2 separate regions of the Homo sapiens genome follow, and region 1 is linked to region 2. Evidence: fine-mapped expression QTL. A gene starts in region 2. The other region holds a variant in brackets. All regions are shown on one strand. Distances are between the middles of the regions. Region 1 has its middle 3.9 kb from the start of PDE6G. Region 2 holds the start of CYBC1 (cytochrome b-245 chaperone 1).

Region 1 (4,450 bases), 790 kb after region 2:
TTTATTTGAGATGAAGTTTTGCTCTGTGGCCCAGGCTGCAGTGCAGTGGCGCGATCTCGGCTCACCACAACCTCCACCTCGCGGGTTCAAGCGATTCTCCTGCCTCAGTCTCCCAAGTAGCTGGGACTACAGGCGTGCCCCACAGCGTCTGGCTAATTTTTATATTTTTAGTAGAGACGTGGTTTTGCCATGTTGGTCAGGCAGGTCTCCAACTCCTGACCTCAAGCCATCTGCCCACCTCAGCCTCCTGAAGTGCTAGGATTACAGGTGTGAGCCACCATGCCTGGCCAATTTATTTATTTTTTATTTCAATACTTTTTGGGGAACAGGCAGGTTTTGGTTACAGGGATGAGTTCTTTAGTGGTCAATAAGTTTGGAAAGGTTATTTTGCGAAGGTTGACGACATGCCTGTGACAGCCTCAGGAGGTCCTGGCAACATGTGCCCAACGTGGACACATGTTGCTTTTATACTTTTTAGGGAGACATAATACATCAATCAATACCTATCATATGTACATTGGTTTGGTCAGGAAAGGAGGGACAACTTGAAGGGAGGGGGCTTCCAGGTCATAGGTAGATTTAAAGATTTTCTTTTTTTTGAGACAGAGTCTCGCCCTGTCACCCAGGTTGGAGTGTAGTGGTGCGATCTTGGCTCACTGCAACCTCTGCCTCCCGGGATTAAGTGATTCTCCTGCCTCAACCTCCCGAGTACCTAGGATTACAGGCACCTGCCACCATGCCCGGCTGATTTTTTTTTTTTTTTTTTTTTTTGAGACAGAGTCTCACTCTGTCGCAGGCTGGAGTGCAGTGGCGCAATCTCGGGCTCACTGCAACCTCTGCCGCCCAGGTTCAAGCGATTCTCCTGCCTCAGTCTCCCAAGTAGCTGGGATTACAGGCACCCACCACCACGCATGGCTAATTTTTGTAGTTTCAGTAGCAACGGGCTTTCACCATCTTGGCCAGGGTTGGTCTTGAACTCCTGACCTTGTGATTCACCCGCCTCAGCCTCCCAAAGTGCTGGGATTACAGGCGTGAGCCACTGCACCCGGCATGCCTGGCTAATTTTCGTATTTTTAGTAGAGACGGGGTTTCACCATATTGGCCAGGCTGGTCCCGAACTCCTGACCTCAGGTGATCCACCCACCTCTGCCTTCCAAAGTGCTGGGATTACAGGCATGAGCCACTGTGCCTGGCTGGCTTTCAGGCTTTTTGTCTTTGGCTTGAAGGTGGGGTTTCACTGGGGACCTGCCCGTATCTGCCTAGGCATTCGACTGCCTCCTGCCACCATCAGGCATAGCTCACTGCAGCCTCAACCGCCAAGGCTGAAGTGATCTTCCCATCTTAGCCTACCAAGTAGCTGGGACTACAGGCAAGTGCCACCATGCCCGGTTCATTGTTTTTTGTCTGTGTCTGTATGTGGAGATGGGGGTCTTCCTACGTTGCCCAAGTTGGTCGTAAACTCCTGGGCTCCTGCCTTGGCCTCCAAAGTGCTGTGATTACAGGTATGAGCTACCATGCCCAGCCTACAAAACAATTTTTAAAAACTTAGCTGGGCATGGTGGTGTGTGCCTGTAATCCCACCTACTTGGGAGGCTGAGGCAGGAGGATCACTTGGGCCAGGAAGTCAAGACGGAAGTAAGTCATGATTGCCTCACTACACTCCAGCCTGGGTGGCAGAGACCCCTGTCTCTAAAAACAAAACAATCACACACACAATCATATTCATAGTTCAACATGAGCACTTGAAGTAATTAAAGACCCCAGGGCAGCACACAGAATCTGCTTAGCCTGTAGATAGAGAACACAAGAAAAGCCATGGCAAAAAACTACGTATGTCCGGCCGGGCACGGCAGCTCACGCCTGTAATCCTAGCACTGTGGGAGTCTGAGACGGGCGGATCACTTGAGTCTAGGAGTTTGAGACCACCCTGGGCAACATAGTGAGACTCT[A/G]TCTTTACAAAAAATACAAAAATTAGCCGGGTGTGGTGGTGAGCACCTGTAGTCCCAGCTACTCAGGAGGCTGATGTGGCAGGATTGCTTGAGCCTGAGGAGGTCAAGGCTGCAGTGAGTTTGTTTGTTCTCAAAAAACAAACAAAAAACAGTTTATAGTCTTTATACACAGCCGCTTTGGGAAAGCTCCATTCCTTAACTTGTGCTTGTCTTGGTCTTCCTGTGTGTAGTTACTGCTGTAGAAAAGTATTAATAGCTTCATTTTTTTGTTTTGAGACAGAGTCTCTGTCGCCCAGGCTAGAGAGCAATGGCACAATCTCTGCTCACTGCAACCTCCACTTACCGAGTTCAAAAAATTCTCCTGCCTCAGCCTCCCCAGTAGCTAGGATTAAGGCACCTGCCACCACGCCTGGCTAATTTTTTGTATTTTTAGTAGAGACAGGGTTTCGCCATGTTGGCCAAGCTGGTGTCGAACACCTGGCCTCAGCTGATCCACCTGCCTCAGCCTCCCAAAGTGCTGGATTACAGGTGTGAGCCACCGTGCCCAGCCTAATAGTCTCATTTTGTTTCTTTTCTTTTTTTCTTTTCTTTTTTTGAGATGAAGTTTCGCTCTTGTTGCCCAGGCTGAAGTGCAATGGCACGATCTTGGCTCACTGCAACCTCTGCCTGCTGGGTTCAATCGATTCTCCTGCCTCAGCCTCCTGAGTAGCTGGGATTACAAGCATGCACCACCACGCCCGGCTAATTTTGTATTTTTGTAGAGACAGGTCTTCTCCATGTTGGTCAGGCTGGTCTCCAACTCCTGACCTCAGGTGATCCGCCCACCTTGGCCTCCCAAAGTTCTGGGATTACAGACGTGAGCCAATGTGCCCGGCCTAATAGTTTCATTTCATGTAAACATAAGTAACTTCCAAGCAATTACGTAGAGGGCTAAAATTGTACCTGGTATTTAAGTCATCAGAACCGGTTCTGCAAGTGACTGTGTTTTGCATTATTGTGAAGATATGAAAATGTGGTGAACGACAATTTAAAGAGTGTTCCACATCACCGTTTAATTTCTTTTTTATTATTTATTTATTTTTGAGATGAAGTCTTCCTCTGTCGCCCAGGTTGGAGTGCAGTGGCGCCATCTCAGCTCACTGCAACCTCCGCCTCCCGGGTTTAAATGATTCTCCTGCCGCAGCCTCCCTGGCAGCTGGGACTACAGGCGCCCGCCACCACGCCCCACTAATTTTTTTAGTTTTAGTAGAGATGGGGTTTCACTATATTGCCCAGGCCGGTCTCAAACTCCTGACCTCAGGTGGTCCAGCCACCTCGTCCTCCAAAAGTACAGGGATGAGCCACCATGCCTGGCCTATTTTACTATTTCAGAGTTGAGGTCTCGCTCTGTCACCCAGGTTAAAGTGCAATGGTACAATAATAGCTCTCTGCAGCCTTGAATTCCTGCAGCCACCGATATTTCACTTCTGCATTCCAGCCTAGGTGACAGAGCCAGATCCTGTCTCTCAAAAAAAAAAAAAAAAAAAAAAGATATGGATTGCAATCTTGTTTCCTCTGGGGCTGAGTGAGGGATTGAGCCATGTGGGACAAGAGGTTTTTGACTTGTTCCATTTATTGCAGCATAACTTGAATCCAGCCGTCCTTTCTGGACTAGTGATTTTTGCCAGTCTCATGGCTAGAGTTTTACAATCAAGGCTATAGGGTCTTTGTTTAGGTCTATTTGGAGCTTTATGTATTTTCATGTGATTGTCTTTGTATATTGTCTGTGATACATGATACCAAAAAAGGAGTACTCATACATTTTATTTTATTTTACTATTTATATTTTTATTATTATTTTTTGAGACAGAGTCTCACTGTTGCCCAGGCTGGAGTGCAGTGGTGCAATCTCAGCTCACTGCAACCTCCACCTCCTGGGTTCAAGCGATTCTCCTGCCTCAGCCTCCTGAGTAACTGGGACTACAGGTGCATGCCACCACGCCCAGCTAATTTTTGTATTTTTAGTAGAGACAGGGTTTCACCATGTTGGCCAGGCTGGTCTTGAACTCCTGATCTCAAGTAATCCACCTGCCTCGGCCTCCCAAAGTGCTGAGATTACAGGCGTGAGCCACCATGCCCGTCCAGGTTTTATTTTTAATTTTTCAAAATTTTCATATTTCTTCAGAGATAGGGTCTCTCTCTGTCCCCCAGGCTGGAGTGGTTTGACCATGGCTCACTGCAGCCTCGAGCTCCTAGGCTCAAGGGATCCTCCTGCCTCAGCCTCCCAAGTAGCTGGGTCTATAGAAGTGAGCCACTGTGGCCAGGCACGGTGGCTCACACCTGTAATCCCAGCACTTCGGGAGGCCAAAGTGGGCAGATCACGAGGTCAGGAGATTGAGACCATCCTGGCTAACATGGTGAAACCCTGTCTCTACTAAAAATATTAAAAATTAGCTGGGCGTGGTGGTGGGAGCCTGTAATCCCAGCTACTCAGGAGGCCGAGGCAGGAGAATCACTTGAAC
Region 2 (4,204 bases):
GGAGACCAAGATTTCCATTAAGCAGAGGAAGTCTCCAGGTAGCAGGCTTCAGAGAGAATAGATTGTAAGTGCTTCTTATCAGAGTTCTCCCTGAAGCAGGAAAAAGACCTGGAAAGGAACGGGGATTCGCTACAGAATGTAGATTTTCTTCACAAGGGACAGCTTTGCAGGGCTATTTCAAAATAAGTCGAAGAAATTTAATGTGGGGTAAAGTACTTCCATTTCTTCCAAGGCTTCCTATCTGTCATGTAGTCCTATACCAGAGTCAGGCTGGAATTTGGCGTCATTGCTACAGAGTCTACTTTGTCAACTTCAAGATCTGTTTTTGTTTTGTTTTGTTATTTTTTATTGAGATGGAGTCTCACTCTGTTGCCCAGGCTGGAGAGCAGTGGCACGATCTCGGCTCACTGCAAGCTCTGCCTCCCGGGTTCACGCCATTCTCCTGCCTCAGCCTCCCGAGTAGCTGGGACTATGAGCACCCGCCACCACGCCCAGCTAATTTTTTTGTGTTTTTAGTAGAGATGAGGTTTCACTGTGTTAGCCAGGATGGTCTCAATCTCCTGACCTCGTGATCTGCCCACCTTGGCCTCCCAAAGTGCTGGGATTACAGGCGTGAGCCACCGCACCTGGCCACCTCAAGATCTGTTTTAATGTGAATGCTGGTCAGCTGTGTGCCTGAATTCCAAAAGGGAGGAGGGAGTGAGGTATGTCTGTCTCCCCCTTCCCATCACTGCCTGAGCTAGTTTTTCAGGATAACTTGGGAATGCTCTTGGCCAAGCGGAAGGGTCCATTCAGATGGTTGAGGTTTCGAATTGCTGACTGTATCCTTGTAGAATCCTTTAGTACAGTCTTGTCTTCCACATTTCCAGTAATTCACTCTAGAAGCTTGTTCACATTCAGGTTAAATTTTTTCTGGCAAGACTACTTCATAGTGTTGTGTACTTCTGATATCTAACTGACCTTTTTGCGATGTTAATTAGCAGTCATTGATGACATTGCCTAGGTCCGTTAATTCATAGGGTGATGTTTTAATCCTACTGTTTCTTCTTCATTTATTAGCGGGAAAACTTCTATAATGAGAAATTCTTCTCATGCAGTATTTGGTTACTCTGCTGTAAATTTCATAAAGGCAGGACAAATGCTTGATGCTTTCCTTTTATTAACCAGGCCACAAACTGGGGTGAGCTTACCAGCATCCTCCAAAGGTGAACAGAGTTAAAAAATACATTATTATGAATTACAGACTGGAGCATCTGAGGATTTTAAATTCACTCGAATTCCTGTTCTTATTCATGCTCAAATCTTCTTTTTTGGCAATGAGAACCGCTTCAGTTTCGCTTCTATGTTAGCAAGACGTTCATAGTCCTTGGTAAGTTCTTTGCTGTCGGATACGTTTCCCCGCACGTTTCTTTTTTTCAAGAAAACTGGCTTCTTTAGCAGGAACCACCCGCCTCCTCCTGCGGCTCCGCCCGGATCCCGGAAATCCGCTCGGCTCCGCCCCATCCAGGAAATGCTTGCGGCCCCGCCCCAATCCCGTAAGCGCGCGCGGCCCCGCCCCCAATCCCGGAAGCGCGCGCGGCCCCGCCCCCGAAAGTCGGCTCGGCTCCGCTCCAATCCCGGAAGTGCGCGCGGCCCCGCCCCCGCCGGTTCGCGTCTCTCTGCTGCGGCGCGGGGACCGCTGTGCTCTCGGTAGGCGGCTGGGCTGGGTGGGCTCCGCACTTCCTTCCCGCTCCGTGCCGCGCGTCCCGGCACCCTTAGGCCCACTCCGGGAGGGGTCTGCGTCCTGGGCCCGCCTGCCGGCTGTTCCGTGTCCCGCCGTGCCCGTCGCGGGCGGCCTCGCGCCTGTTCCGCTGCAGGTTGGCCCCGGCGGCGGGAGCGCCCCCGATCCGGACAAAGAAACGAGCGCTCGGTGCGACTAGCGGCGCGGGCGGCTTTGCCAGCGCGCGTGTGCTTGTGTCCGCGAGTGTGCGTGTGTGTGTGCATTTGGATGTGGAATGCCGGGTGTTTCGGGAGCAATGAGGCAACTGAGGCCCGGGAGGGAGCCCAGTCATATACCAGCATCTAGGATTGGTTTGTGTGATTTGAACCCACTATTTTTTATTTTTTTGAGACACGGTCTCACTCTGTCACCCAGGCTGGAGTCCAGTGGCACGATTTCTGCTCACTGCAGCCTCCACCTCCCGGCCTCAGGTGATCCTCCCAGCTCAGCCTCCTGAATAACTAGGACCACAGGCGTACACCACCACACCGGGCTGTTTTATGTATTTTCTGTGGAGACGGGGTTTCGCCACGTTGCCCTGGCTGGTCTTGAACTCCGTGACTCAAACAATCCGCACGCCTCGTCCTCCCAAAGTGCTGAGATTACAGGCCTGAGCCACCGCGCCCAGCCTGAACCCCCTACTTAATGTCAGAAATTTGATTTGACTTCACAGGGAAAGCCCTGAGAAACTACCAGAACGGGGTCCCTGGGGCCAGTGTTGGGAGCGTACGGTGAAGTGGCAGGGCTGCTGCGCCCGTGCGGAACTCCGCTGTGGAAGATTAGCCCCTTTGGTGACTCGTCGGTTCTGGCCGCTTTGGGACCCTCTACTGTGCAGTCTGAACTTTCAGCAGGTGGAGGAGGGCAGAGAGAGAGCTGAGATCGTTGGTCCATGCCAGTGCGAGAGCCAGTACGGCCGGAAGCCATGATGGGACTTTCAGTTCCTTTCTTGGTGGAGGCCAGCACAGGGGAGAGGGGGTGCCCACAGATGCTAGAAGCTTAAAGGCTGCTGGGGGCTAGCGGCCTCAGGACATAAGGTTTCCAGACAGGACGGGGCAGGTGGTGATGCAGCTGTAGCTCGTGAGTCTGAGCGGGAAACAGCCCCCGCGCAGTCGGTGTCGCTGTGAACGGAAAAGGGCCTTCCTTACACAGGAAACGGGGTCTCTGGGGGATCCAGTGACGTGCCCAACCACAGAGACCAGGTGAGACTGGCTGATGGTGTCTGGGGCTGCAGGTGACTTAGTTGGGGGACCTGCTCTTGGCCTCCAGACTGGGCCTGATGGCGTGGGCGCCTGCCTGTGTGCAGGCCCAAGGGCTCAGCTGCCTCTGTCTGTTCCCAGACCCCTCCTCCTGTAGAGAGTGGTGCTGCCCTCTCGGGATGTACCTGCAGGTGGAGACCCGCACCAGCTCCCGCCTCCATCTGAAGAGGGCTCCAGGCATCCGGTCCTGGTCCCTGCTGGTTGGTAAGGCTCTCCACGTCCCTCCCCAGAACCCCAGAACCGGAAGCCTGACTTTCAAAAAGGATGAAAATGAAACAAAATATTTTCTCTTTTTTCTATTACCTTGAAATCTAATGGCTATTTTGTTTCTTTGTATCCATTCAAATTCTATCTGGTGTACTTGGTTTTACAGATAATGCATGTCTGTTTTGTCCCCTTTTAATCACTAACACCCAGCGTATTTAATATACTCTATGAGCTTTTCTGAGGTCACCATATTTTCCTTTGTACTTGTTTTGAACCACGTGATGGGTGATCGTGGGTTCCCATGTCTCCTCCTCCCTGGTCCTCAGACCTCTTCGTAGGACTCACAGTCCACTAACCACGTGATGGGTGATCGTGGGTTCCCATGTCTCCTCCTCCCTGGTCCTCAGACCTCTTCGTAGGACTCACAGTCCACTAACCACGTGATGGGTGATCGTGGGTTCCCATGTCTCCTCCTCCCTGGTCCTCAGACCTCTTCGTAGGACTCACAGTCCACTAACCACGTGATGGGTGATCGTGGGTTCCCATGTCTCCTCCTCCCTGGTCCTCAGACCTCTTCGTAGGACTCACAGTCCACTAACCACGTGATGGGTGATCGTGGGTTCCCATGTCTCCTCCTCCCTGGTCCTCAGACCTCTTCGTAGGACTCACAGTCCACTAACCACGTGATGGGTGATCGTGGGTTCCCATGTCTCCTCCTCCCTGGTCCTCAGACCTCTTCGTAGGACTCACAGTCCACTAACCACGTGATGGGTGATCGTGGGTTCCCATGTCTCCTCCTCCCTGGTCCTCAGACCTCTTCGTAGGACTCACAGTCCACTAACCACGTGATGGGTGATCGTGGGTTCCCATGTCTCCTCCTCCCTGGTCCTCAGACCTCTTCGTAGGACTCACAGTCCACTTAGCCTCCCGTCCTCCATCGCTACCCACCAGTAGGGTCCTGTACCCTTGGGGACAGCTGCAC

What was found. PIP is the estimated chance that this variant, and not a neighbour inherited with it, causes the effect.
Region 1: its variant is fine-mapped to the expression of CYBC1 in fibroblasts (GTEx, PIP 0.97).

Annotation. Positions count from the first base shown.
Region 1 is chr17:81,658,180-81,662,629 of GRCh38, reverse strand. It overlaps a transcript of PDE6G not described here. Among named protein-coding and RNA genes, the nearest start is that of PDE6G, 3.9 kb to the right of the region's middle. The variant A/G (reference allele first, on the strand shown) is at 1,950.
Region 2 is chr17:82,448,185-82,452,388 of GRCh38, reverse strand. It overlaps CYBC1 (cytochrome b-245 chaperone 1), which reads left to right and starts at 1,637. Exons shown (of 7, transcript NM_001033046.4): 1 at 1,637-1,689; 2 at 3,097-3,219. The coding sequence starts at 3,135. RefSeq lists silencers at 1,577-1,936, 3,247-3,296 and an enhancer at 2,567-2,826.